Linked DNA regions of Homo sapiens: all the other regions are reported to be linked to region 3. Evidence: microRNA targets listed by miRTarBase, many of them from high-throughput screens and not tested one by one. Region 3 holds a microRNA gene; each other region holds the end of a gene's coding sequence.

Evidence for each region. The annotated mature microRNA hsa-miR-335-3p reads UUUUUCAUUAUUGCUCCUGACC and lies in region 3 at 3,394-3,415, opposite strand. An mRNA with a match to its seed (bases 2 to 7 or 8) in the 3' UTR can be bound and repressed. Matches are read on the target gene's strand: a 7mer-m8 pairs with bases 2 to 8, a 7mer-A1 pairs with bases 2 to 7 and ends in A, and an 8mer does both.
Region 1: the mRNA of KANSL1L is a reported target of hsa-miR-335-3p. Seed matches in the 3' UTR shown: 7mer-A1 at 5,623-5,629.
Region 2: the mRNA of ZNF362 is a reported target of hsa-miR-335-3p. Seed matches in the 3' UTR shown: 7mer-m8 at 2,607-2,613.
Region 4: miRTarBase lists C1orf56 as a target of hsa-miR-335-3p. Seed matches in the 3' UTR shown: 7mer-A1 at 5,384-5,390, 7mer-A1 at 5,144-5,150, 7mer-A1 at 4,785-4,791 and 7mer-A1 at 4,756-4,762.

What each region holds. Positions count from the first base shown.
Region 1 is chr2:210,016,391-210,023,510 of GRCh38, forward strand. KANSL1L (KAT8 regulatory NSL complex subunit 1 like) reads right to left here. Exons shown (of 15, transcript NM_152519.4): 15 at 5,031-6,789. The coding sequence ends at 6,559. It overlaps RPE (ribulose-5-phosphate-3-epimerase), which reads left to right. Exons shown (of 6, transcript NM_199229.3): 4 at 117-251; 5 at 1,083-1,169; 6 at 3,279-5,870. The coding sequence ends at 3,401. Among named protein-coding and RNA genes, the nearest start is that of KANSL1L-AS1, 10 kb to the right of the region's middle.
Region 2 is chr1:33,298,001-33,305,120 of GRCh38, forward strand. It overlaps ZNF362 (zinc finger protein 362), which reads left to right. Exons shown (of 9, transcript NM_152493.3): 9 at 930-2,719. The coding sequence ends at 1,046. Among named protein-coding and RNA genes, the nearest start is that of A3GALT2, 20 kb to the right of the region's middle. RefSeq lists a silencer at 771-951 and an enhancer at 1,383-2,332.
Region 3 is chr7:130,492,457-130,499,576 of GRCh38, reverse strand. It overlaps MIR335 (microRNA 335), which reads right to left and starts at 3,466; the gene lies at 3,373-3,466. It overlaps MEST (mesoderm specific transcript), which reads right to left. Exons shown (of 12, transcript NM_002402.4): 2 at 4,055-4,209; 3 at 2,342-2,421; 4 at 1,564-1,641; 5 at 1,302-1,438; 6 at 1,100-1,158.
Region 4 is chr1:151,049,034-151,056,153 of GRCh38, reverse strand. C1orf56 (chromosome 1 open reading frame 56) reads right to left here. Exons shown (of 2, transcript NM_017860.5): 2 at 4,734-5,716. The coding sequence ends at 5,696. CDC42SE1 (CDC42 small effector 1) reads left to right here. Exons shown (of 5, transcript NM_020239.4): 2 at 161-477; 3 at 1,028-1,138; 4 at 1,833-1,923; 5 at 2,827-5,169. The coding sequence starts at 424. The coding sequence ends at 1,907. Among named protein-coding and RNA genes, the nearest start is that of C1orf56, 4.8 kb to the right of the region's middle.

The DNA.
Region 1 (7,120 bases), not on the chromosome of region 3:
AGTCTTGTTAACTTTTAAAAAATAAGAACAGATATTTCTACTGGGCCTGCTATGCCACAATAATATAATACAGAAGTAATTGTAAATGTGATATAGCATATTTGTGTCTGTTACAGGTTGGCCTTGCCATCAAACCAGGAACCTCAGTTGAGTATTTGGCACCATGGGCTAATCAGATAGATATGGCCTTGGTTATGACAGTGGAACCGGGGTTTGGAGGGCAGAAATTCATGGAAGATATGATGCCAAAGGTAAAAGAAGTATTTGATTTTGGGGTGAGGCTTTTACAGTGTGTTCATTCAGTAAGCATTTATTGAAAGGCTTGTATATTTAGGCATAACCTGTTCTGAAGGTGAGGAGATGGGGATGCTTACAGATCATTCTAATACAGTATAATAAATGCTGTAATAGATTTCTGATTTGGAAATCAGAGAAGTATTACATCTTTATCTTGAAATTTTCTCTTTCTTTGAGACAAAGTCTTGCTCTGTCACCTGGGCTGGAATGCAGTAATTCAATTAGGGTTCATTGCAGCCTTGACCTCCTGGACTCAAGAGATCCTCCTGCCTCGGCCCCCTGAGTAGCTAGGACTACAGGTGCATACCACCATGCCCGGCTAATTCTTACACATTTTAGTAGAGAGGAGGTCTCACTACGTACCCAGGCTGGTCTTGAACTCCTGGGCTTAAGCTGTCCTCCCACCTTGGTCTGCCAAAGTGTTGGGATTACAGGTGGCAGCCAACCACGCCTGGAAGTCTTGAAATTTCCTTTTGAAACTATTATCTCTAACTTTTAGATCTCTTGGAAGTTGTCATTGACTATTGAGGATTTGTCTGTCTTGTTTACATGACAGTCTCTGCAAAGACAATACAGATTGCTGTTTGCCAAATAGAACAAAGCTTGCTATTAAAAACCAAGTGTTCCCCAGTAATATGTTGTATTGGTATAGTTATTGTGTGAGACAATTGGAGTTTTAATTGCTAATATTTGCTGTTGGATTTTTTTGTTTGATTGTCCCCCACCCCCACCCCCACCAACATACCCACTTTAGGAGTTACTTATTTCCTCATGTATATATCTAGGTTCACTGGTTGAGGACCCAGTTCCCATCTTTGGATATAGAGGTCGATGGTGGAGTAGGTCCTGACACTGTCCATAAATGTGCAGAGGTGAGATTGCTCTTCAACTATGACTAGACCAATTTCCCGTCAAATATGTCTCCAGGACATTGTCTCATGGGCCAGCGATTCCCTCTGTGGTTCCTAAGTTGACTTTCTTTCTTGGAAAAGTATTTTTTGTTCACATGTACAACTAGGAAAATAAACAGCCATAAGTGGATATGCTTTTTTTTTTTTTTTTTTTTTTTCTTTTTCTGAGACAGTCTCTCTTTGTGGCCCAGATTGGAGTGCAGTGGCGTGATCTCTGCTCACTGCAATCTCTGCCTGCCGGGTTCAAGCGATTCTCCTGCCTCAGCCTCCTGAGTAGCTGGGATTACAGGTACCTGCCACCATGCTTGGCTAATTTTTTTATTTTTAGTAGAGACAGGGTTTCACTATGTTGGCCAGGCTGGTCTCAAACTCCTGACCTCAAGTGACCTGCCTGCCTCGGCCTCCCAAAGTGTTGGGATTACAGATGTGAGCCATGGCGTCTGGCCCGTAAGTGGATATTCTAAAATCACATAAATTGTTAAAATTGTAAATCCTGGTTTTCTCAGGAAGGCTGAAGAAAGTTCTTTTTTATAAAAGAATATGTTGAATTTCAGCCCTTTGGAAGATCATTAAGTTTCACGGCCTTGGAAGTGAGAAATTTTTCCAAAATACGGAATTAAAAGGTACTACCAAGGGGGGAAAATAGATAAATCTAATTGACCTAATTATTACATTATTCTTTAGAACCTACATATTATTTAGTTGTTCCTTGTAAGAACTTGCTAGAACCATTTTTGATGAAAATCTAGGCCTGATACCTCTTTGGCTATCTGTATAGAAGTAAAAACTTTTTTTTACTTTTTTTTTTTTTTCAGATAGCTAGTCTAGCATAGTCAGGCTCCTGAGGATGCCAGCCCTTCTGGTAGCACTGCAAGTGATTAAAGCTTACATGACTGCTTTTCTTCCACAGTGTGATGTATCTACTTCCAGGTTCTTGTATAACTGCCACACGTTTCTGCTTGATATATACCTATCAAAAGCTTGACAGTAGTAAATACTTATGCAGGAGGGGCTGGCCAGATGATGAGTGAGCTCATATCCTTTTGATCGCTTGTGGAATTGCTTTGTACTAAACTGTGCTTTGCCAGTATACTATTCCTGCTTTTATGCCAGAGGTAGCAAATTTTTTGTGTGAAAAATCAGACCTTGGCGATGACCTTAAACAGCAGGATATGAAGAACTCCCACAAGCTTAGCGTTCCAATAATGGAACACTAGGCATAAATGGGTTAACTGAAGAGAATATTTGCAGTGTTAACCCTATAAAACTCACCTTTATAATTTCTGTGAGGAATATTGTTAGAAATGTTGTCATACATGAAGTGACACTATCTGTCTGGAAAAATTTTCCTCAGCCTGTGGTTCTCCCACTTCTCCCTCTTTGTTCTAGCAATGAATCACAAAACAGATTGGGTTTCCATCCTTGAATCAGATCCTAGGAAGATCAGAGTTAAATTTGGACCCAATTTTTTAGCTTTTCTTTTTCAATTTCTTTGCTTCCATATTTAAATGTATCTTAAAAACTTTTTTAAAGCCACTTCAAAACCATTCTGAAATGCAATGAAGTATAAAGAGACATTCTATTTTTTGACACAAAAACGAGAACTCACTTAATTTTGCCGTAGTTTATGGATAATTTTACATTTTTAGCAATAATTGTCCTTTCACACTCACAAATTCATATAAATATAATTCAAAGAATAAAAGTGTTTTTTTAGTAACTGTAGAGGCATTGGTGCATATTGGGAAAAACCTTAGTGGACTTGAGGAGTAAAGGCTTTTAAACCTTATCTAAAGGTCGCAAAGATACCATGTAGATTATTAAGAGTTGGTTTACCAGAAAGGTCAATGATTTCTTAGACACATTTAAAAATAGTCTGACATCCTCATCTGTGAACATTTTAAATTTTTCTTATTGAACTAGATTGCTTAAGTCTGCTTAATCTCAAAGTGGCTCTCATATGATTGAAATGTTGACAGATGCAAGGGTAGACACTCTAGTCCAGGAATTCTGTTTTAGGTTTTTCTACATTTTCCTTTGAGGCATAACCTAACTGTTTACTTCTTCCAGGCAGGAGCTAACATGATTGTGTCTGGCAGTGCTATTATGAGGAGTGAAGACCCCAGATCTGTGATCAATCTATTAAGAAATGTTTGCTCAGAAGCTGCTCAGAAACGTTCTCTTGATCGGTGAAACCATAAGGAGCCCAGTGTTCCTGTTCATGAAATCTCCCTTTTACTGGAAAACAGGAATATTGACTACCAAATCACAATGCAATTGAAGCCGTACTGCTTTTTTGAGCAGTTATTCATTCCAGTGATTAAAACTGATTGTGCAGAATATTCTAAGAGGTCAGAAATTGGTGTGTATAACTACATTTTTAGTGATGCAATTTATTGATTAGTGAGTAAGATACTGTTTTTATTGAGAGATTTGATTTTTATAAAGTAAAAATACGGCTGCATTAGGGTTACAAACAGAAAAGTGTCTTAATGTCTAAGGAGGGCATATTAGCTACACTACAAAAACAAATTTTGTCTGTACTTCTGAAAAGAATTTTGTTGTTTCTCAGCTGTTTTCCAAAAGCAAAGGAAGTCTTTATGGTTTTTTTCTATTTCATGTTATTGTGATTTGTTTATAAGTTTGGGTGGGGTGCATACCATATTCTTGGTTCTTAAAATCTATCACTTTTCACCTTACACTTGATGTGTGAAAACTATAAAAACAATGTGTGAAACCCAGGGGTTCTAAAATACAAGCATAGATTTTATCAGGGTGTTTTGTCAAAGCAGGTTATTCAGTGATTCCTCCCCACCATTCTTAAGAACGTTAAATAATGCTGTTGTGTTAGCTCTGAGTAGAAAGGAAAAAGTAAAACCTCTGTTTGGAGGTAATATTGGGTTGAATTCTGACTGCCCCTTTCTAGCTGGACCTTTAACAAATCACCCAATCTTTTTTGTGTTTCTCTAAAGTCATTTATACATTAAATGTAATTATAGCAACTGTGGGGTTCTGTTGAGAATTAAGAGCTAACACTATATATGTAAAGTTTCCAGTACTAGTCCCAGAATTTAGAATATGCTCAACACAAAGTAAACAGCATTATATAAGTTTATATTTTTGTGAGTTATAAAGTACTTTGATATATTCTCATTAAATCTGTAAATCACCTCTATAAGTAAGTGGTAATAATAAAGCAGATATTTTTGTCCCCATTTAAAAAATGAAGAAATTAATGCTTAATAGGGTGGTACCCTGGAAAGGATCTGGGAAGTGGTAGAATTTCTGGTCTGTACTTTTACAAATGGAGCCCTTGGGAGGTGGGTTAGGTAAAAGAAGCTTTTTACTTAACGTTGTCTTATTTCCAGTCTAATTTTACGCTGTAGCAGAACCAGATGGCTGAGAAAATTCTGGAACTATGGATCTTGACCCCAAGGATATATTATTTTATTCCAAGAAAGATCAGGTAGGCGAAAAGATGACAGGATACAGAGTCAATCCATAAACTAAATATTTATAACTGTTCTGAATTATACAGAGTCTAAAAATATGTGTCAGCTACTTCATTCCTGTAAATACTCTTGCTGTGTTATAAATATGGCAAGAAATAAACATGACCAATATCAATAGACTTCTTGAGGCTACTATAAGTTTTGAGAAATAAGGTTCAAAAAATAAGAATGCTAACACTTAAGCACAGACTAGAGCTTGCTTGGGTTTCTTCCTGCATTACAAGGTAAAAATTTGTTAATGTTTGTTTTTATTCAGCTTGGGAAAGCTTTGTGCCATGAATACGTCGCATTTAATAACAAGCAACACACGGCATATAGAAATAACTTTAATTAAAAAACTTACATAGAAGATTATAATATCAGACGTGACAAAGATTTGAGTTTATTTGCCTGGACAACTTGGGTTTGTCTGGCTTTTGTTTTCTTTTTCTTTAAAAATAAATGTACAGTAAAACTACAAGCAAAAGTTTGTCAGTATTGAATTGAATTTTTTACCCCTTAAAAGGACTAGTATAATTTCCAATCTCTAACAAAAACTTAGTGTCAAATCTCACAGATAAGGCCAAATGGCCAATATTTTCAGTTATGTGGGTAGTACAACTTGAGTAACCTTTTTTACATGACAAAAAGTGAGTTATATAAATTGTCCTCAACTTTCACATAGGAAAAAAATGGTTTAATAGCTTCAAAAGGAATTTTCTTTCATGTATACTCTTCAGTATCCAATATTGAAGCTTTGTTCTTTGAAAAATTTTAATTTCCAATCTAGGATGCAAGCAAGAATATATGTTTATTTGAATAGAGTAAGCTATGGCAAAGAATGACCAAATTAGCTAGAAATAGAAATCAGCCAGAATTAACTAATTTCTTGCTAATCTAGAAATACAATCATCTTTTTTTTTTTTTTCAAATTTTATACTGATAGGGCTTTACTGTTTGTGGCTCATTTTAAAACTGGTGTCTTCTCTTCATGAGACACATTAATTGGTAAAACTCAAATTGAGTTTTCAAAGATGTGATAGTATTAAAGTGCACCAATATTTGACTCAAATTTGCTTGCTTTATTTTGTTAGGAGTAAACAGAAAGTAGCCTGTGTTTAGTCCCAAAGATAGCAGTGATTTTGAATAAAGGAGTTTTGTGTTGCCTGGATATATGAATTTCTGTAAATAACTTCTGTTGGTTAAACATGTTAAAACAACAACAACAACAACAAAAAACTTCTGTCTCTATATTCAGGACGTTCAGATGTCTTTTATTAGTGGAAACCTGTGTTTTATCTATTCTGCAGCTTACATTTCATAGGGTAGTTCATACATGCATTTCCAAGGGGAGTGGGTCATTGCCAGTGTTTTAAAAACTACATAGGGGTGTGTGTGTGTGTGTATGTTTATTTTATACACACATATTTGTATATTCTAATATATTACTAAGGCAATTTTAATGAATTACCATGTATATAAAAAAATAGCTGTCACTTGGCACACAGGTTTGTATGTATGTGTATATATATATGTATGTATGTATGGTGTGGGTACATAGTCTTAAAAATTACCCAGTAATGTGATTTGACATCAAGTTGCAGCAATTAATATCTTGGTGTTTGTAAGTAAGTTGCATGATAAACACAAATGACTACCACTTGTCTGTAGATGAAAATCTGGTTACCCTTATGGTTCCAGAAGGAAAAACAGACTTATCTTGCCTGTTTCATAAACAGCATAAAAGATTAATACATGCAGAACATGCTCTTATTCTGGAGGGGATGGGGGATCCAGAACAGGGCTTTATTTCCTCCCATCTTTCCTACATTTACATAGTTTTCTTAACCTGTTCCCTGTCACCTATTTTTTTTAACATTAGTAAGTCCTAGACCAAAGGTTTTGTATTCTTCCATTCCATCTGACTGCTTTTTTGGATGGTGGCCATTCTCTGGTACACTGGTACCGAAGATTTCACCATGGAAAGCTGTGCTTGACCTTTCAACCTGATCCTTTTTTTCATCTTGACATAATAAGGCTGCCATGTCTTCACCCTTCAGTGGAAAAGCCCGTCGTTCCCACCACAAAGACTGAAAGGGGAAAAATTTTCAGTTAAGTTTCAACTAACTTGTTTTGTTTAAATTCATCTAACAAGTAATCTGTACATGTCTATATTGTAATAATTGTTCTGTTCTTTAGCACATAAATGTACAATTTTTCATTTCAACTTAAATAGCAACTCAAAATGGAATATATTGAGAATTGTTGAGTGACTTTTGGGATTTATTTCTTTACTTTGCCTCTGCCAAGAAGAGGAAATGCTGCCATAGGCAGTGGTCTTCATTTCCGACCTAAGAGTACTTTGGGAAAGTGTTCTTAGGTTTGATATACTTCTACAGTATCTTCATTTTCATTATTAAA
Region 2 (7,120 bases), not on the chromosome of region 3:
ATTTGAGGGCTTCCTCTGCTGGGTTCTGAGCATATTGAGGTCTGAAGTCAAGGAGTGGCAGGTGGGAGTACCGCCTCTGCTTCTGGCAAAGGCGATTGGAAGGATGTGGCTTAGTGTGAGGGCTTCTGGGCCTGCAGTGAGCCCTGGGTCACAACCTCACCTACCCAGTCCTGGTGCCTCAGGTCAGATCCAGCAGAGCCAGTGGAGGACATGATAGTACCCACCTGTAGTCCCAGCTACTTGGAGGGCTGAGGTGGGAGAACTGCTTGAGCCCAGGAGGTTGAGGCTGTGGTGAGCTGTGATTGTGCCACAGCATTCCAGCCTGGGCGACACAGTGAGACCTTAAGAAAAGGAAGGAAAGGAAATGTAGAGACTGGGGCAGGAGTGGACCCTTCAACCCTTACTCCATGCTAAGGGCTTGATCTTTGTCACCACAGCAACCTGTTGAGGTTGTTCCTCCCCTATGCCTGCTTACAGAGGAGGAAACTGAGGCTCAGAGAGACAAGATGACTTGTCCAAGTTCTCACCACTAAGAAAGAGCAGAGCTAGGCTCAGACCCAGTCCTGCTGCCTCACTGTCACTGGGATCACCAGCCAGATGCAGGCACAGTGCTTCACCTGGCAGACAGGGCTGAGGTTCAGCCAGTATACCCAGCTACATCCAGGTGGCAAGGGCCTGGGGGCCTGGCCCTGGAGAGCCACAGGTGGGCATTGCTGAGGGGTGAGCTCTCCAGCCAGCACTCATACTGGCAGCAGTGCAGTGTCTCTAGAACCAATGGCCGACGCCCATCTGACCCTGCAAAACTGTGGCTGTCCTCCACCCTCTGAACCGCCTACCAAGAGCCCTCCAGTGGCTGCTGGTGGGAACTGCAGCCTCTTCTCCCTCCCTTGCTGGTGGTTCCCTGTTCTGAATCTCATCCCTGCCCACAGGAGACCTACCTGATGAAGCACATGTCCAAACACACGGTGGTGGAGCACCTGGTGAGCCATCACTCGCCCCAGAGGACGGAGTCCCCCGGCATCCCGGTGCGAATCTCTCTCATCTGAGCCCACTGGAGGCGCCGCCCCACCCGGCCCACTGGCAGACACAGACCCAGGCAGCACCAGGCCCCAGCTCCCTCCGGGGGCCCTCCAGGAACCACCAAGCTCTCTCACGACCTTCCCAATCTTCCAGAAAGCTTGGTCCGCAGAAGCCCTGCCTGGTCCAGTCCGGGGGCGGCCAGGCCAACTGCAAGATTCTGGACTGTTTTGGTGGCATCCAAAGACGATCTCAGAGCACTTTGAACCTCTCTGTTGAGTTTTCTTTTTGTTCCCCACCCTTCACTTGCTTCACTGTTTTTTTTTTTTTCGTTTTTTTTTTTTAAGTTTGTTTTGGAAATAACAGAAAAGATATTTATTGGCCAGGAAGTTGGTGCTGCTAAGACCGAGAAATTTAAAGAATCGGACAGATGGACGCAGAGAACCAGAGGGCAATGTGGGACCTTCTCTTGCCATGGCCTCAGGTCTTGAGGGAAGGCTCGGGCCTAGGTTTCTGGACTGCAAAGGGGACCCCCAGGTGGGAGGGGCAGGAAGCAGCCGGAGTGAGCCCTTCGCCCCTGAGTGCCTGGCTCGCACCTCTCGAGCTGTGCCCTGGGCATCACTGAGCAGAGGGGTGCGGCAGCTTCAGGAGGCAGAAACGAGAGGGGTGGGAGATCCACAGGACCAAAGGGTGCAGTGATGGGCTGGGTGGCGGGCCCAGGGAAATGGGGTGGGGATGGGCTGGGTAAGACCTGGCCCTCCCCTGCTGCCCTGAAGACCACCCCAGTCTACCTCGGTGCTGGCCAGGAAACCTTTCGGCTACCTCTCCCACCATCCCAGACTGTGGGCAGGGGGATGGGGAGGGAGTGGGCCTGGATCTGGGACCTCCCTCCAGAATTTCCTCCAGATGGGGGCAGTGCCCAGGGAGGGGTTATTTGTCTTCCCTGCCATGGAGTGGGAATCCCCAGCCGAGGCCCTAGGCCCCTCAGCAGGGAAGGGATCCCCGGGGAGGCAGGTCCCAGGAGCAGACCCTGCCCCCAGCCCCCACAGACACACCCCAATCTGAAAGCCATGCGTGTCGGTGTATATAGGAACCATGTACAGAGCCCAGAGAAGCCCCCTACATCCCCCCGGGAAAAAAAAGAAAACTAGACAGAAACTCATCTATATATTCTGTATCTGGAGTTCCGTTTTGAATATTAACTGTGTTATTTTTATACACTTTTTAAGCCTTAACTCGCCATTGATTTACCAGTTTAACGTTTCCTGGGGTTTCTTTGCCCATGGGGTTCTCTGCCCCCACCCCCGGCCCTTTGTTTGACTTGCGTCGTCTGATACTCAGTATTGTAGCTTTTTGTCCGCATGTTACTCCCTGTAAATACGCTGTTATACATACTGTTAACACCCCTTTGCTTTTTCTATGGGACCTCCAGGCCACCATATTTAGAACTAGTTACCTTATTAAAAAAGAAAAAACAGTCTGTTGGCTTCTCAGTCTGCATCTTGGAGGCAGGGAGGTGAGGGCAGGTGCCCCTCAGACACTTCAGGAAGGTAGTTTGCATTCTATTTAAAAAAGGGAGTGGGGAGCAAATGAAAATCAAATGTGGGGGGAAAACACTAAAGGGGGCAAGAAACAAAGGAATTACAAACCCTCTGCTCTTTGTATTTCTCTGTTGTGAAGAATAAACTGTACCTGCACCCGGGTGGCGGTGGTGTTTGGCGTGCTCTGTGCGAGGGCAGGGCTGGGGGGCACCTTTCCATTGCTCCTCTCCCCTCCCCCGCCCCCCAGACTTGGAGAAGGAAGAAAGTGGCCTCTCACTGTGGGCTGGCCTCACTCCAGGTGCTGAACTGAGTGCTTTATGTTGATTGCCTCACAACTCCCTAAGAAGTGGGCAGCAAACCAAGAGAGGCCCTTTGCTAAGGATCATGCTGCAGTATAGTGGCAGTGACATAAACTGACCCAGCATTGCCTAGTTCTGGAGCCTTCTTGGATATACTAGGTCCACCAATAAGTCTCACTTCCACTGCTCCCTGAGGGGGCACCCCACCTATGTGGGGGGGGGGTCCATCATGAGTGCCTGATTTGTGGAAGTGATTCTAGTGATTGGAGGGGGAGTCCAAGACATCCTTGTCATACATTGTTTTTTCCCCATAGGAGTCAATGTTTTGACTGCCTAGGAAGGAAATTTAGTAATAAAATCCCCAAAAGCTTATCATGTCTGGCCCTGTGGAAGCACTGTGAGGGGGACAGTGCTTCCACTGTCCATGGAAGGTCATCATGGAGGTCATCTACCATGGAGGTCATCATTGGTTCGAACTCGTTTCCCTGAGTCCTCACAGTCCTCATGTGTCAAGACTTTGCTGCAAGTGATAGAAAGTCCAATCCAAACAAGGGTGTATTGGCTTATGTAACAGGACAGTGGTCAGGCCAGCTTCAGGGCTCAAAGGATGTGTCTCCAGCTCTCCACTCTGTTCTGAGTCAGCTTCAGCCTGAGGCGCCTGTGGGGTCAGCAGCTCTAGTCTCTCAGTCCCCAGGGTTCCAGCAATCAAGCCTCTTGTCTCTCTGACAAAAGCCTCAGTGTCTTCATCTGTTTTATGCTGCTATAACAGGATATCACAAACTCAGTAATTTATAATGAGCAGAAATTTCATTCTGTTCATGATAAATTCCAGTCTCATAGTTCTGGAGGTTGGGAAGTCCAAGAGCATGGTGCCAGCATCTGGTGAGGGCCTTCATGCCATGTCATCTCATGCCAGAAGGCAGAAGAGCAAGAGAGGGTGAGGCCAGGCTTGGTGGCTCATGCTTGTAATCTCAGCACTTTGGGAGGCCAAGGCAGGAGGATCACTTGAGTCCAGGAGTTTGAGACCAGCCTGGGCAACATAGGGAGACCTTGTCTCCACAAAAAAAAAGAAAAAGAAAATTGGCCAGGTGTGGTGGTGCATGCGCCTGTAGTCCCAGCTACTTGAGAGGCTGAGGTGAGAGGACTGCTTGAGCCTGGGAGGTCAGGGCTGTGGGGAGCCGTGATTGCACCATTTGCACTCCAGACTGGGAGACAGAACAAGCTCCATCTCAAAAAGAGGGTGAGAGTGAGAAAAATGGAACTCGAAGCCTCATATCCTTTTATAATCAGCATTAATCCATTCATGAGGGTGGAGCCCCCATGGCCCAACAACTCCCACTAGGCTCCAACTCCTAACACTGTTGCACTGGGGGTTGTTTCCAACACATATGTTTTTTTGGGGGGACACATTCAAACCATAGCACCCAGCAAAAGTCTAATTGGGTCTTCCTGGTTCTAACTGCATCATGTTGTGTGCTTGTTTGGCTTGGGCCTAGGGCCCATGCTCTAAGCCTGGAGTAGAGGGTGAAGCCCTCACCTTCTTTACTTTCTGAAGCACAAGAGGTTCCCTAACAGGAAACCAGAGTGTGTTACTATCAGAAGAGGAAATGGATGTGTGGTAGCCAAGAACCAGCATGTTTTCAGTAATCTCAGGGGCCTCATCTCTTTCTCTGAAATTGACCTCCCATAGCCTGCTTTGCCATGAAAGGATGGGCTCTGGCAGCCATATTTGTGTCACATGACCCCATTGCAGCCACAGCCGATTGGCCAGGGGTGGACACCTGACTCTGACTTGATACATAGGTGCAGCCAGTGGTGCATAATGGCTGTCCTGATTCATGTGAGAAAATTGTGCACACCTCTTCCAAGCTCTGCATTCAGGGAGTACTGGTAGCTTGAAATCAGCCATGGTGGGATTTACACCATGGATATTGGCCAACACTATAAATCAGGGCTTTCTTTTTCCCCAGTCAACTGCTAGACTTATACCAGCACACCACCGGACGGAGCTGACTCTCCTGTCAGATTCTCTATTCCATGAATTAGGAACAAGTTAGGAGATGGTGGGTACCTGAACTGGAAAACCCTGTAGACTGCGGTTTGGGGTGACTGTGTTGAGCTGGACACAAGCAGAAGAACAAAGCCGGCAGAGAAAGAGCAGAAATGGACCAAGGAGACCAAGAGCTAGTGGTAACCTCTGTTCCTGTCCGTCTTCATCCTCTGGCTATGTTTAATCTCCTGTTTGTTCTCACTTCAATGAGTTTAAGTTGCTAGTGGTGTGACATTGTGTTAGTTACTAAATCTGTGCCTGATCTCCTCATATGTAAAATGAGGTAAACAGTAGTAACCAACTTACAGTGTGGATGTGAGGATTAAATGAATCAATACCTGTCTAATGCTTAGAACTGGCACGTTGTAAGACCCAATATATGTCCACATCATTATTGCTGCTATTTGCCTTAGCCCTAAGGGATCTATGATCCTTATGATCAGTGATCCCTGACTGAGAGCTGAAGATGTTTGGGAATTTCTAGGGGTGGCATTTGAGCTTGCATGGCAAGGCGGGGCGGCTGGGACAGGTGGAGATTTTGCATGTAGCAGTGATGCTGAGGGGACTGAGTCTGATTTTCACTTGCTCACGTGGGGAGTGAGTGCCACTGCCCCTGGGGGAGCCTCAGGATAGGTGCTGAGGACAGTGTTGATGGTAATGGAGGCAACTGCAGAAGGAGCTTTAGCCCTCTTGTTATTCCTGCTTTAGATCCAAGTCCCTCTGTACCCACCCCCACAACCCCTCCTTAGGCCTCTGGGCTCACTAGGAGGGGAGCCATTCCCAAGGGCTGCCCACCCTGCAGCTTCCTGGAACCCCTCCCTCCTCAAGAAGATCCCCAACAACGCAAGGCTGCCTCCAGTCCACGCCTTGGAAACTCCTGAGCATGCCATTTATTCCCCCTTTAAAACAGAAATGACTGGCTGGGCACAGTGGCTCATGCCTGGAATCCCAGCACTTTGAGAGGCCAAGGCAAGTGGATCCCTTGAGCCCAGGAGTTCGAGACCAGCCTGGGCAACTTGGTGAAACCCCGCCTCTACAAAAAAAAAAAAAAAAAAGCCTGGTGTGGTGGTGCATGCCTGTAGTCCCAGCTACCTGGGAGGCTGAGGTGGGAGGATCACCTGAGCTCAGGGATGTTGAGGCTGCAGTGAGCCATGATCATAGCCACTGCACTCCAGCCTGGGCAACAGAGTGAGATGCTGTCTCAAAAACAAACAAACAAAAAACAGGAAATGACTGTTCTTTGGCAAATCCTTTGCACTCTCTGAGCATGCTGGAGAAAGGGCAGGCACGGAGAGGAAGGCAAGTTGTGTTTTCTAGAGCACCACCACAACCCCTGCAGGGAGGAAGAGTGGCATCCACATTTCACGTATGAGAAAACTGAGGCCAGCAAAGGTAAGGAACTTGTCTACCCACACACAGAAGAAGAGCCAGTTCACATCATCTCTTGCTGGCTCATGCTCAGGTATTGAATGGCCCAGCAATTGTTAGGGTCTGCAGCAATTGTTAGGGTCAGCACGTGTGGCCCTCAGTGAATGCTGCAGGGTAAGGTGGAGGACACACATCTTCCCCAGCTCACAGGCAGAAATTTTTTTTTTTTTTTTGAGACGGAGTCTCGTACTGTCATCCGGGCTGGATGGAGTGCAGTGGCACGATCTTGGCTCACTGCAACCTCCGCCTCCCAGGTTCAAGTGATTTTCATGCCTCAGCCTCCCAAGTAGCTGGGATTACAGGTGCCCACCGCCACGCCTGGCTAATTTTTGTGTTTTTAGTAGAGACAGGGTTTCACCATGCTGGCCAGGCTGGTCTCGAACTCCTGACCTTGTGATCCGCCTGCCTCAGCCTCCTAAAGTGCTGGGATTACAGGTGTGAGCCACTGTGCCCGGCCAAATTGCCTGTTCTGACACACGTGGCCCATTCTCATCTCTAATCCTGAGTCCAGAAGACCTTCTGGGTTTTGCTAATCTAGTTTAGACAGGAGACATTTTGAACTGCTTTTGAGAGGACAGATCTCTCTTATTGTCAATAGCTGGGCCTGGTAAATAGCAAGAATTGCTGCCCTACCTGGGAGTGGAGGCTATTAAAATGCAAGGTTGGTGACAATACTACATAAAAGATTCAGGAGAGCCAGGGTGAAATCCCAGTCTCTCAGGGCCCCAGTTTTCCCAAATGTCAGACAAAATCTCAGGGGCTTCAGTGGCTACCTTCCCTATCTC
Region 3 (7,120 bases):
GAATTCTGTGTTTAACTGGTCACAATAAATCCCACTGGAATTACTTTTCCCATCTTAAAGATAGTGAAACGGGGAGAAAATATATGGTCATCCAAAATGCTGATAACCAGGCTCTGACTCCCCTTAGCATTTCCCCCTATCACTCAGAACACGAGGGTTAATGATTTGGGCTGTAAGAATAAAACAAGAAGTTTTTAAATAAGTATAGGTCCTTTAAAAACCCTAGAGTTTTTCCTTTTCCCTTTCTCTTCAGAGTCAGTGGAAGAAAGCCATGAGCATAAGTGATAAAGGGAGAGACGGATTTCTCTCCCAGTCTGCTCTTAAGGCGTTCAGGAGACATTTGGATATTCATGAACTTGCAAGCTGGCTACCCAGAAAGTCTAATCAGGGGTTCGGTATTTTCTAACTGAAACTTGGCACTGCCATCAGTTAGGAGTTGGGGAATCTCATACAGTTAAGTCCTCACTTAACATCAGGATAGGTTCTTGGAAACTTCGGCTTTAAGCAGAATGAGGTACAGCAGGTCCTTGAATAACATCCTTTCTTTAAAACATTGATGAGAAAAAAAATTGGTTCCATTATAACGTTTCATTTAAAGTCACAGTTTCCAAGAACCCATTGATGACATTAAGTAAGGATTTTCTACACTAACATCATAGTAGTATTAGAAACACTTGTGGCTTTTTTCTGTATCTTCAATCCTACACTCTCATAACCTATTGCAGTTGTTTCAGATATGGCAAACAGTCTTTACACTCCTCACTCCTTCTGATATAGCTGTTACTAGGTCCTCCACTAGAACTTGCTATCTAATGCATTGAAAAAGCACATGTGACTATAATGCAGCTTTTTATTGACTATGTAAGTAAAGTCACTATCCTTTGTAATGCTGTTTGTTTCTTTATTTTAAAACATTCTGAGAAAGGGTCCATAAATCTTGTCAGACCACCAAAGGAGTTGATGGCACAGAAGAGGTAGAGATCCCATAGTTTAATTATGTCTACTTGAAATATTATCAGATTACCATTTAGGTGCCGCTGTATCTAAAGATGGCCCTTCTAGATTACACCCACTTTCTACCTACCGCCAAGGCAATTACCTCCATTTGACAGACAGAGACTCTTTATGGTAAGCCGACCAGATCGATTCTGCTTGTACCTAGAAGGGAGACGAGGAAACACACATGTAGCTGAGCAAACTTAAACCAGTGCACCGCTGAAAACGAGAGAAAAAGGATACAAACAGTCCAGAAACAATGTACTTTCCTAGCATCATAAGCTGAAGTCTGAAGCTCCACTGACCTGTAGAGAAGCTCCTGAGCAACAATATCTCCATAGTCATGAGAAAGAAGGTTGATCCTGCGGTTCTGGAGCCCCAGATGCCGCAAAAGCGCTTCCACGATGCTGGCCTGCTCAAATATGGAATAGTGATGTGGTCTCTGAGGAAAGGAAAGCCCACATACACAGGATGAAGTCATGAGGACAGCTCTCTCTGCCAGCCTGACCCTCATAGTCTGCGTCTGCCCCCACACCCCATCACCAGCCCCACATAGGTGCTGCTTACCGGTTTGTCACTGAAGCCAAAGCCTAAGAAATCAAGGGCAATCACCCGATGAAACCTCAAGGTCAGACCTTCCCAAATCTACAAGAAAGAAACGATGATTTGGGCTTTCTGCTCCTGCCCCTCCCTTTCACCAGACCTACAGTTGCACAGGAGCTTCAGCCCTATCTTGGCTTAACAGACTTCCATAAAGAGAAAACGCCATGAAACTACCACAGGTCCCACAGATGATCCTCTTGGAAAATGCTTTATTCCTGGTAATTAATCCCTGTTGAGGGAGGGTAACTTGGCAGTGATCCCTTCCAGAGTGCCAAGGAGTTGTTTATTCCCTTCAGTAAATAAGGAACAGTTCAACATTTAATGTTTTTTTAAAAGCAATTCAAATGTGCAAGAGCCTTCTGGTGCTGACAACAAAATCCTTGAGGTTTTTTAAATTTTTATTAAAAAAAAATTTTTTTTTGAGACAGACTCTCGCTCTGTCACCTAGGCTGAAGTGCAGTGGTGCAATCTCAGCTCACTGCAACCTCTGCCTCCCGGGTTCAAGCGATTCTCCTGCCTCAGCCTCCCAAGTAGCTGGGATTACAGGCTTGTGCCACCATGCCTGGCCAATTTTTATACTTTTAGTAGAGATGGGGTTTTGCCATGTTGGCCTGGCTGGTCTCAAACTCCTGACCTCAGGTCATCCTCCCACCTCAGCCTCCCAAAGTGCTAGGATTTGAGCCCCCGCGCCCGGCCGAGATTTTTTAAGACATAGTAGGACGTAGAAGTCTGACTTCATTACCTTGTACCAGTCGTAGCTGGATGTTGGAAAACCGTGTAAAAGCACAACTATCTCTGGACTTCCAACCACACCCACAGAGTCTAGGAAGAAGGAAAGTACAATCAATTATGCCAAATCCCTATAAAAATAACCTCGAAGATGTTAAAATCTAAGTAATCTGATACAAAGAACAAGCAACTGTGACCAAATTGACATTAAAATGACACAATTATTTGTAAAATGTAAGCTTAACTGCGTTAGGTGAGAACAGGCCTTTTCTCCTTTCAATCTGTATATTAAAACATTGTAAAAATCATGCTATGTGAAAATACTTGAAGGCACCTTGTTTACTTTCACCTAGGTGTTTTTAAACAGCATCTCCCCATTTCTCCTTTTGTTCTGTAATATGCAAATTTTTTCAGTGAAAAGTAAATTTTCAGTTAAAAGCATATGATCACAACACATAAACTACAAATTCTTTGTACTTTATCATGAATGGCCTCACAGAAATTCTCTAAGATACAGCAACTATTCCCAAGGAACACCTTTAGCTTATGCTGTTTGCTCAGCACTTTTTATTCAGCAGGAGACCCAATCTAACATCAAAAACATAATAAAACTATTACAAAATCCTGTCAACTATAAAAAGGGCTTAATCAACATAAACATGAACTTTTTTAATGCATATGACAATATGGAAGCATTCAGCATCATCTAAATTAGGTAAACATTTAGACAATATTAACCTTGCTAATAGTATGGGATTAGAACAGGTATATTCATATACTGCCAGTGACATGAAAATTTGGTAATAAGGTTTTCAAAAATAATTTAGAAGCAGTTAAAAATTGTATATACTTTAGCCTAAGAGTTTTGTTCTTGAGAATCTGTGCAAATAAAATCATTCCATTTATACAAGTAGTATAGTTTGAAAATGTAAGGAAAAAATAAACTGTATGGACATGAAGCTTTTACTTCAACATTAGTTTTCTAAAACAGTAAAACTGGAAGTAACCCAAGCCAACATAATAAAAATTGTATACTTACTTAATTGAATATAGCAAATGAGAGGAGGTCAGGAGCAATAATGAAAAACGGTTTATGACAAACATTTTTCGTTATTGCTCTTGACCCCCGCTCAAAACAAATCATTTCCAATCTGTTTCTCAGTTTCTTCACCTATAAAATGAGGTTAATGGCACCTATCTCCAAATGCTGTTGTAAAGATTAAACAATGAAGGCTGAAAACATAACTCAGTGCCTGGCATATGGTAATTACTTGATAAGTAGTGGTCATAATAATCATCATCACTAGCAAATTAATTTATATAATGGTATCAAGACTTAAATCACAGTTACACTACAAATAATCTACAGAAAAAATGAAATCAGGGATGGTAAGGAGAGAGAACCAATGGTGGTTATATCTATTAATATTTTATATATTACCTGACAGGTTGCTCAAAAAAAAAAAAAAACTAATATTGGAATACATATCAAGCTACAAAGAAAACTTATACTAAAAGGTAAGGTCTGCAGGTTGGAATCTCAGTCCCTACCCCCATTCTCCCAGCAGTTTTCTGCGCTTCTCTGCAAGCACACTACACAGAAAGAGAGAGAGATACTCTCCTCCATCATTAAGGAGCAACAAGAGACCAATAGCCACAAAATAAATACCTCAGCTGGGACTTATGTGACCGATACACGCAGGACTTCCAATAGTCCACTTCTTACCTTGGTAGAAGATACGCAGTCCCTTGTAAGTGAAAAACTTGCCTGAAGACTTCCATGAGTGAAGGGCAGGGGAGAGCTGAGGGGGTGGGATGTGCAGGTACGCAGCAAGCAGGGGCACGGCCAGCAGCCCCACCTGGACCCACCACTCCCTCATCCTGTAGGAAAAGCAGAGACCCACTGTAAGCAGTCAGGTAACATTGTCCACTCATCTACAAACCAAAACCTGGTAAGATGGGGTGGGAGATTGCTGTTACCATGCAATGATTACATTGCCCTTCACATAGGCACAAAGCTGACCGAGACTATAATCAAACCTCTGTCTGCCATAGCACTCACCATATTTGTTCATCATTCTAATCTTAAGGAAAAAAAATACATTATTTCAACATATAATCTTCTGCCTCTGCTCCCCGACTTTAACCCCTTAGCCCCTACCCTTGTGGTCTTCCCAATACCTGCTGAAGAGGACTTTATATAAATAAAAGGGACATGACTTAAATGCTGGACACTCTTTCGTTGACTTTTATCAAGGCTTCCCAGGAAAAAAATAACTTCTTTCTTATTTACTCCAAAAGCTCTACCATCTACCCACTACCCCCAACCAGTAAAATGTTCAAAAAATATATATGTGCTATATCTCATGTTTTAAAGAGTGTGTGTGTGTAGTAACTTATCACATGTCCTCAAGCAGAGAGCTACTCCTGATTTTCAGCCCTCCTGCCTAAATGAAGCCCCATTTAGTACTCCTTTCTGGATTTGGGCTGAGAAACTGCTCAGGGTAAACAGTCTGTGAAAGTAAGATAGCTGCACTGTGTATTCCAACATAAGCAGCTTTGTCATGACCCTGAATATCTAATCTCTTGAGAGGTCAAGGCGGTAGATTACATTTCTGCTTTTCTTAGCAGACTCTTTAAGTTTCCATTTAATTTCCTAAGATGCTCCCCCACCCCCAGATAAGGCATAACTCATACCCAGCGTGTGAGAATTGATTTTGTCTTTGGAAAAAGAGCACTGGTTGGTACACCCAACCCTCCCATGCCCAGGACTTCAAAGGCACAAGTCAGTTTATCCACATTGACAAGGAGTGCCAAACAGGAATTATAAACCGTTCTGTTTCAAGTCTATGACTTCTGATGGTCAACAGATCAAGAATTGTCAGTAGAATGGAAGTTCTCTCAAAACAGCCAGAATGGAAATAATACCCTCCAAAACTAAAATTAGAGTTGTCATAGAGCTGAAATAAATTAATTGCTAAAGCCCTGGGGGAAATGGCTTTCCGTCTGTACACACATTCTTCCCTATTGCCTGTAATCTACCTACCCGTTCGCTAACTTCCTCAACTTACAAGATACTTTTCCCCCCCATATCCCTGATACTTTTTGCTAAAATCTAAAAACAAGCCTGTGGTTTTACAGTGGTAAAATAACCATGTTTCTTAAACAATGTCAGCTCCCCAGGCTATTTTTTAGGCATTATTAGGGCAGTCATTTCTTTTTTTCTCCAAAGTACCTGTCCATAAGACGGATAGAACCATTTGGTCCTACTTCTCAAGGTAATACTAGAAATGGTTCAAAAAAGTGCCAGAACATGATGGTTATATCACAGTTTTCACCCAACAATAGCAGGCTGTATCCCAGTATCTCCTTGAAAGGTCAGATGACAAAAACCATTAGGTTTTGACGATCATTTGCCCAGCCCTATCTGTCCTGTACTTCAATGTATACATTTTCATGTGCAGATTTCATTACTCCTTTCCCCCAGTGCTTCTCATCGCATTCATCCCCGGGGTTCCAGCAGCTGAATCTCTGCAGTGACTCAGCAGAGAGCCCCGGGAGGGGCGGCCAGAGCGGCAAATGGGGAGGCTTCCCCGCCGCTGCTCAGGGAAAGTGGGGGGTTAAAAAACGAGGCTATCGACCAACATACTCCACTCCTGGACACCCCCCTCCACACCCTCCTCCTCTTACTCCAAGAAAGCAAAGAGGCAACCTCTCAGGGGGCCATTTTTTGTCTTATTACCTCAGTAAAAATGCCCCCATGAACTTTTAGGATTTTTAGAAGTGAAGCAACCTAGCCGTCAGTAGGCAAAATGGGTTAAGCAAACATTTTTTGGCCAAAATCCCAACTATTTGATGAGCCATGAGCGGAGACAATAAGCAAACTCCAGTAACAAACTTTCCAAAAATTTCTGAGCCTTGATTTCTTCATCTTGTAAACAGAAAAACACACTCCCGTAATAATACCACCCAACCTGCCGCCCACCTGATGGCGTCGCCGCGAGACGAACCACTTTGAAAACCCGCGAAACCAAGGTGAACAATCCCTGCGCAACATGACAGTTTGGTCACATCGCCGTTCTCACTCGCGCTTGTTACTGAAATCTGAAAAATACTTAAGGCGGCTGACGGGCACTGCGAGTTCTAGTCACTGCGGTGACTCCCGCCACCGTGATACCTGGGTCTTGAAATCCTAAGCTGCACCGCGGCGATCTCGGCACTGCGATTATCCCGTTCTTGAAATCCTAAGGTGCGCCACGGAGACACCGGGGTTCTAAAAATCCTACATCGCACCAGGGCGATGCTGGGGCCTATCCTTTAAGTCGCACCAGAGCGATGCTGGGGTTCTAAAAATCCTACATCGCACCAGGGCTTTGCCGGGATCTATAAATCCTAAATCGCGCCACGGCAACGGCGGAGTCTAAGAATCCTGAATCGCACCAGAGGGAAGCCGGAGTCTAAATATCCTAAATCAAACCAGGGCGATGCTGGGGGTTAGAAATCCTAAATCATGCTGCAGCAATGACTGAGTATAAAAATCCTAAATCGCACCAGGGTGATGCCAGGATCTAAAAATCCCAATTCGCATCAGGGTGAGACCAGGGTCATTATGGATCCTAAGTCATATCAAGATGACGCTGGGGTCCAGAAATCCTAAATCTCACCACGACGATCCCGGGGTCTAGAAATCCTAACCCAAGGAGGTCCCGCGTTCTGAACATTCCATTGCGGGCAGGAGTGACACCCCCTCCTCAAGTAGGCAGAGCGGGCGCGGAATGCGTGCCGCCTGTCG
Region 4 (7,120 bases), not on the chromosome of region 3:
TCAAACTGAGGTTCATAGTGTTTGGGAATGAGTGTTGGTGTACAGGTCTAGGGCCTCTCAGGGAGGACTGGGAAGATATAGGCTCATCAGGAGGTTTCTCAAGGATTGGGGGAGGGGGAGATTTCTCACTGATCTTTCTTTTTACTTTCTTCTAATCCAGGGTTCCGAGTCTGAGGAAGACATAACCTTGTGCCTGCCTGCCCACCTCTCTCTCTGGTCCTGTTCATCTCTCAGGCTCTGAGACACTGACCTTCACTGCTCAGTTAAAGGTTCCAGGGATTCCACTTTGTCTGGACCCATCCAGCTGAGTGAACCCAGGGTGGTGGTGTATCTGGGGAGAGTGAGGAGTGGGTTGTCCAAACACCAGGGAAAGAGCCCTTTGGGGCCTCAGACAGCGGAGTGAAGCTGGAACCATCAGGGAACATGAGTGAATTTTGGCACAAACTGGGCTGCTGTGTGGTAGAGAAACCCCAGCCGGTGAGTCTCCCCACCCCCCATCCTAACCCAAAGAGCAGTCAGTTACTGTGTGCTGTGAGGTAGCCACACCATCTAGGATCTGCCATCTAAAAAAGCACACTTCTTGCCTCCCTCTGTGTCAGGAGCTTCTATGGTCAGGCAGCTGTATATGTGGAACAAAGGGGACTGGGTGATGGAAGAAGTGAATAGTCCTAGCTATTACCTCCTGTTCCTGTCCATTCTGAGCTGGGTGGGGTTTGTAGGTGGAGCTGCATACCTGTCAGTTTTCCCCATTATTTCATCATCAGTCAGAGGTGACTTTGACATGTCCTTTCTTTGTCCAGTGTTCACTCTGCAGGCCACTGCCCTCACTACTCTGGTTCATGTCTTCTGTGTGCTTTTGTTGTTCCAGCTTTGCCTTTCATGCCCTAGTGATTTCCCTGTTAAAATGCCACATCCCCTCTTCCCACCAGGCCCTTAGCTTTTCAGTGGTTTTGAAGACTCTTTTCCCTTCCTCCGTGCTGACTGGAGGAGGGGCCTTAAGACATGACTCCTTATCTTCTCCAAGCAGAAGAAGAAGAGAAGACGGATTGACCGGACCATGATTGGGGAACCAATGAATTTTGTTCACCTGACTCACATTGGCTCAGGGGAGATGGGGGCCGGAGATGGACTTGCCATGGTAACAAGGAAATGGGGAGAGGTTGATACAGGGGTGAGGTCTATAACCGTTCCCTCTTTTTGAAAGTTCAAGCTAGGGACATATGAAAATACTCAATGGGGAAGTAAAAACCTGGGATTCTAGTCCTGGTCACCAGTTGTGGAAACCCGAGACCTGGCATTTTAGGTGTCTGGGCCTAGGTTCTCTCATCTTTACAACTTAGCAGATTGTTCTTCACTGGGGTAGGGGGTATATATATCTTAATAGTTGGAGGGCTTTTTCCAAAAACTTATAACTCTCCCTTCTCCTAATTAAGAACTGCTATCTCAGTGCCACAGTAAATCATATATTTAGGAGTGTTGGGACAGGAAAAAAGCTGAGTACCTTCATCCTAAATAATGTCTAAGATGCACTTCTGTTCCCAAAATAAGGGAAATGGGTCTAGAGATAGTCTTTTCTCAGATCCTGAAACTCAGATATATAGGGGAGAATCCATTGTGAGGGAATATTATTAGTAAAAGACCCATTTTACCTCATCCTCATGAAGGCCAGTGTGAAAAGAGGCATTGAGACTCCCCTAGGAGGAATGGTGGTTAGCAGATGGCTGCTATTGTCAAGGAGATGGCGTCAGCCTCTTCCCTGGAAGGCACAAAGTAGAGTTCTTACTGTAGGATATGAAGACTTACGAAGGTGTCTCGCATCTGTTTTTTTACAGACAGGTGCAGTTCAGGAGCAGATGAGATCCAAGGGAAACCGAGATAGGCCATGGAGCAATTCTAGGGGCTTATAGCTCCAATAATGGAATGGTGAGTGATTAGAGAAACCCATCTAACACCTCAGCCCCCATAACAGCACAACCTGATACCCTGACTCAGAACCCTGATCTTATGCAAGAAAGGGAGGTGTGGCCGGGCATGGTGGCTTATGCCTGTAATCCCAGCACTTTAGGAGGCCGAGATGGGTGGATCACTTGAGGCCAGGAGTTCAAGACCAGCCTGGCCAACGAGGCAAAACCCTGTCTCTACCAAAAAATACAAAAATTAGCCGGGCACAGTGGCGTGCTCCTGTAGTCCCATCTACCTGGGAGGCTGAGGCATGAGAATCACTTGAACCTGGGAGGCGGAGGTTACAGTGAGCTGAGATCGCGCCACTGCACTCCAGCCTGTGTGATAGAGCAAGACTCTATCTCAAAATATAAAAAAAGAATGGGAGATAGGGAGGAATTAGAAGGGAAGATTCAAGAATGTAGGATCTAGGCCGGGCATGGTGGCTAACGCCTATAATCCCAGCACTTTGGGAGGCCGAGGTCAGCAGATGACTTGAGGTCAGGAGTTTGAGACCAGCCTGGCCAACATGGTGAACCCCTGTCTCTACTAAAAGTACAAAAATTAGCCAGGCATGATGGCACACGCCTGTAATCCCAGTTACTCAGGCGGCTGAGGCCGAAGAATCACTTGAACTCGGGAGGTGGAGGTTGCAGTGAGTCTAGATTGCGCCACTGCACTCCAGCCTGGGCAACAGAGTGAGATTCCATCTCAAAAAAAAAAAGAATGTAGGATATAGAAAGACTGAGAGGGTGTTGTGCAGACAGAAGTAAAGAACACACTGTGGAAATAGCTTAAAGTCTGCACTAGGTAGTGCCTTCTTCCTAAAGCCTTGGTTTTCTTTGAGGCTAATCTTCTTTAAGAAAAACTTTTTTTTTATTTCAGGTTCTGCCATCTTGAAACCCCCATTCTGTTTCCAGCCCAGAAGAAATGCTGCCCCTACCAGATCCCTCCTTGAACCAGTGATCTAAGGACCCCTCTTTTCCCTATCTGCCTAACAGTGCCTCACAAGGCTTGGGGGCTGGACTCCCTCTACTCCCTCTGGCCATAGCCCCTCCTGGAGATGGGGTCAAGGCAGCAGGACTGATCAAGTGACTACTGGTTAGCCAGAGGAGCTCAGCTGAAGCCCTGGAAACCCTCAGGTCTGAGATAGGAGTTCTCTAGGAACCTGGAATGAGTTCCTGTCTCCTGAATGATGGTCTGGGTGCCACCTGTTTTTAAACTCTTAAACCTGGAACTCCTTAAATGGGGTAGGTGGGTGAGATTATCAAAGCTGAAGCTGGCTTTGCTGAGAAGCTCCCTACCTCCCTGCCCTTCTCCTCCTTCCTGCTGGAATGAACTAAAGCAGATGTCAAGCAGGGGCTGGTGGGGGTGCCTACTCCCTTTTCCACTCTATCTTTAGATTTCAAACCTTAGGCTTACAGCCCCTCAATATCTCTCTGCTAACACCAGTGTCTCTTTCTAGTTAGGCCTCTAATCTTCTGTTTCTGTTTACCAGCTTCCCAGCAACTTTCCTTTTTTAAAATATTAAAAATTTAATTCAGGTTCTCTTAATTATCCTCATCCTGCTGTTGCCTCCGCCCTTAACTCTATCCCTATTAGGAACCTTGTTTCCCACCGAATAAGAGTTAAGGTAAGAGGTAGCTCTTCACCTGATGACATTCCATTTAAGTTTTGGGGCATCTTTCCTGCCCTCTGCCAACCTCCCTGCTGGCCCAGGTGAGAGGAGGAAGAGGGGTCTGGAAAGAAACCCAGAATGCGGCAGAACTAGGAGTAAGTCCATCTCAAGGTGGACTTCTGATCATTGAGGATGGTGAGATAAATAGGTTGAAAACAATCATCTGTGAGTTTAGGAGTCTTAAGATCCTCACAGCACGGGAGCAGGGAGAGGCTCTAGAACAAGGTTTCACAACCGAGATGCCTTTGACATTTTGGGCTGAAGTGTTCTTTGTAAGGAAAACCTGTTTCCTATTTTGTGCATTACAGGATATTTAGCAGCAACCCTGGCCCACTCTAGTTATGACAACCAAAAATGTCTCTATACATTGCCAGATTTCTCCTAGGGGGCAAAATCGCCTCCATTTGAGAACCACAACTCTAAAGTCAAGATATTTTTCTCTGAAGTGATTTCTGCTTGGCACGCTACCCTCATCATCTTACTCATCTTAAGCCCGAGCCATGGATCAACTAGGAGCCCATATAAATGAGGCTCAGTAGGGCTGCACATAATCTCCAAACAATTCTTTATTCAGTGTTTTGCTTGTGTTTGCATGTTGCTATGATGGACAGGTCCCCCTCCTCCATTCTTGCCCTCTGGAGAAGTGGTTCCTGCAGTGTAGAGATATGAACAGGGTATGGTAGGATTGGGGAAAGGGGAGAGAGAAGCAGTAGATACACTCCTTATCCTCCCCAAATTTTAAGCTCTATTTCTGTGCCCTAGTCCTAGACACACATTAGACTCAGGGAGTTTTGTCTGAAGACCAGGTCCCACTGCCCCCTGGCTGAAGAGTCTGCTTTAAATGGGAAAACAACGTAGGAGCAGGGGTTTTTAGGCACTTTCAGTATTCTCAGGTGTTCTTCGTTCTGGCCCTTCCAGGGTAATTAGGAAGGCAGAACAAGACAGATGAGCTCCTGCCTGCTCTGAGACAAGAAGGGTGGGGTCTCATTAGCTTTGCAACAGGAAACATCCTGTTTTATGGTAGTGGGGTCAGGAATGTAGGAACTGGTATCCATTCTGCCAATTCCACCACCCATTCAGTTTGCTTATCCCTACAGAACAGTGACTGAGGTTCTTTTTTTTTTTTTTTTTTTTTTTTTTTCAAATTTCCATGTATTTTCTGCCATTTTTCAGGGTCTAAGATTGGTCATACATTCCCAATTTACTCTCAGTTCCAGTCAAGCTGGTTGCTCTGAAAGTAACCCAGCTTGTTGCTCTAAAATACCTCAGTAGCCTGAGTGTTATACTAGAGATCTAAAGGGTTAACAGGATAGGGTGGAAAGGTTAGAGACTCCTAGAAATCTCTGGTCACCGTGATCTTCGGCCTCATTCTAATACCTGTTCTTTGGACAGTCTTTTTCCTTTGGTGCTCTCTTGCCTTTAGCTACCTTCTCTAATATGTATGCTACCATCACTAATAAAGTGATGGGAATGGGTTTGAGAGTCGTAATTTATATTAAAAAGTTGTTGGACTTTTAAATACATTTTTTCAAATAAAAAATTAAGCAAAATAGTTGCACAGTAATCATTGCAGGTGTGTGTTGGATTAAAGGATGGATATAGCTAATGAAGATAACTCCTCGAAAGTGGCTGAGATGGAATTTTGTACCAACATTGCCCTTTTGAGGAGAGAGGGCCAAGCATGAAGGCAAGAAGACCACTGTCATCTTTCAAGGGCTCAACTCCTTGTTCTTCCTACTCCCTTTTCTTAGCGTTTATTTGAGATTTTTCAAGCCTGTAAAAGAAGTACTTGTTTTAAAACAATGTTGGAAATGAGGAAAATGAGCAATATCAACATTTTATCCTGAGGGACAGGGAGTAGAAAACAAGCCAGAGGCTGCTAGTTACATAGTTCAGTCTTAGGGATGAAGGGATTTATGTCTCTCCTCCCTCAGGTACCTCTGTAAAGAAACACAAGACCAAACAATGTGTTTTCCAGTTTTGTTTTTCTGTACTAAAAATATCTAGTGGGTGCTAGGATTGAAAGGGCAAGAGAGGTTGAGATACTGACATCTCCTCATGTGGATGAAGTGGCCATTACCTCTGGTTTCTGTCTATCTGCGTAAGAAAAAAAAATAGAGAAAAAGGGAAATTACAACCACATCTATATTCTTTTCCCTTCCTTGCTTCATCTCCCCCTCCCACAAACCCATATTCCCTCAACCCTACTGCCCACCCCTTACTTATTTTTGTATGCAATAATGGTATTGGACACACAAGGAGAAAAACAGAAACAAGCAAAATGACCAAGTGTAAGCTTTATTACCTTTCCCTCCTCAAAGTCCTATCATCCGTATCAATTGAGACTACCTTATCAAGTCAATCAGAACCTTTGCTAATTCTGGGAAAAGCAGAGGACTATCCTTCCTTGTCCTGGAAGGACAGTACTCCCAAATGGTAGTGGTGAAGAGAGTGGGCACTGGTGTCAAACCTGGTTTAAATCTCGTGGCTCTGCCACTTACTAGCTTTGTAAACCTCAGTTTCTTCATCTGAAAAGCAGGGATAATAATACCTCATAGGATGTGAGGATCGATTCAGGTAAAGTGCACATAGTAAGACCTCAAATTTTGGCACTTGTTGCTGTTAAGCTGTATTAGGTCAAAACTATTAATTGATTAAGATCCTTCATATCTGTTAATTATCTGTGCATCAAAAAGACTTTATGGGCCGGGCACAGTGGCTCATGTCTGTAATCCCAGAATTCTGGAAGGCCAAGGTGGGCAGATCCTTGAGCTCAGGAGTTGGAGACCAGCCTGGGCAACATAGCGAGATCTTGTTAGCCAGGCATGGTGGTGCACGTCTGTAGTCCCAGCTATTCAGCAGGCTAAGGTGGGAGGATTGCTTGAGCCCAGAAGATGGAGGGTGCAGTGAGTTGTGACTGCGCCACCACACTCCAGCCTGAGTGATGAGAGACCCTGTCTCGAAAAAAAAGTCTTATGGTCAGGGGCACAGTAGCTCATGCCTGTAATCCCAGCACTTTGGAAGGCTGAGGCAGGAGAATTGCTTGAGCCCAGGAGTTTAAGACCAGCCTGGGCAACATAGCGAGATCTTGTCTGTGAAAAAAACAGAGAATTTCCAAGACCAGGCATGGTGGCTCATGCCTATAATCCCAGCACTTTGGGAGGCCGAGGCGGGTGGATCACTTGAGGTCAGGAGTTCTAGACCAGCCTGGCCAACATGGTAAAATGCTGTCTCTTCTAAAAAAAAAAAAAAAATTAGCCGGGCATGGTGGTGGGTGCCTGTAATCCCAGCTACTCAAGAGGCTGAGGCAGGAGAATTGTTTGAACCTGGGAGGCAGAGGTTGCAGTGAGCCAGGATCACGCCATTGCACTCCAGCCTCGGCAATAAGAGTGAAACTCTTGTCTTGAAAAAAAAAAATATTTCCAATCTTAACTATTTGGTCAATAATCACCTAATGAGCAGTAAGACATTTTACCTAATGACCAACCAGTAGTTGCTCAA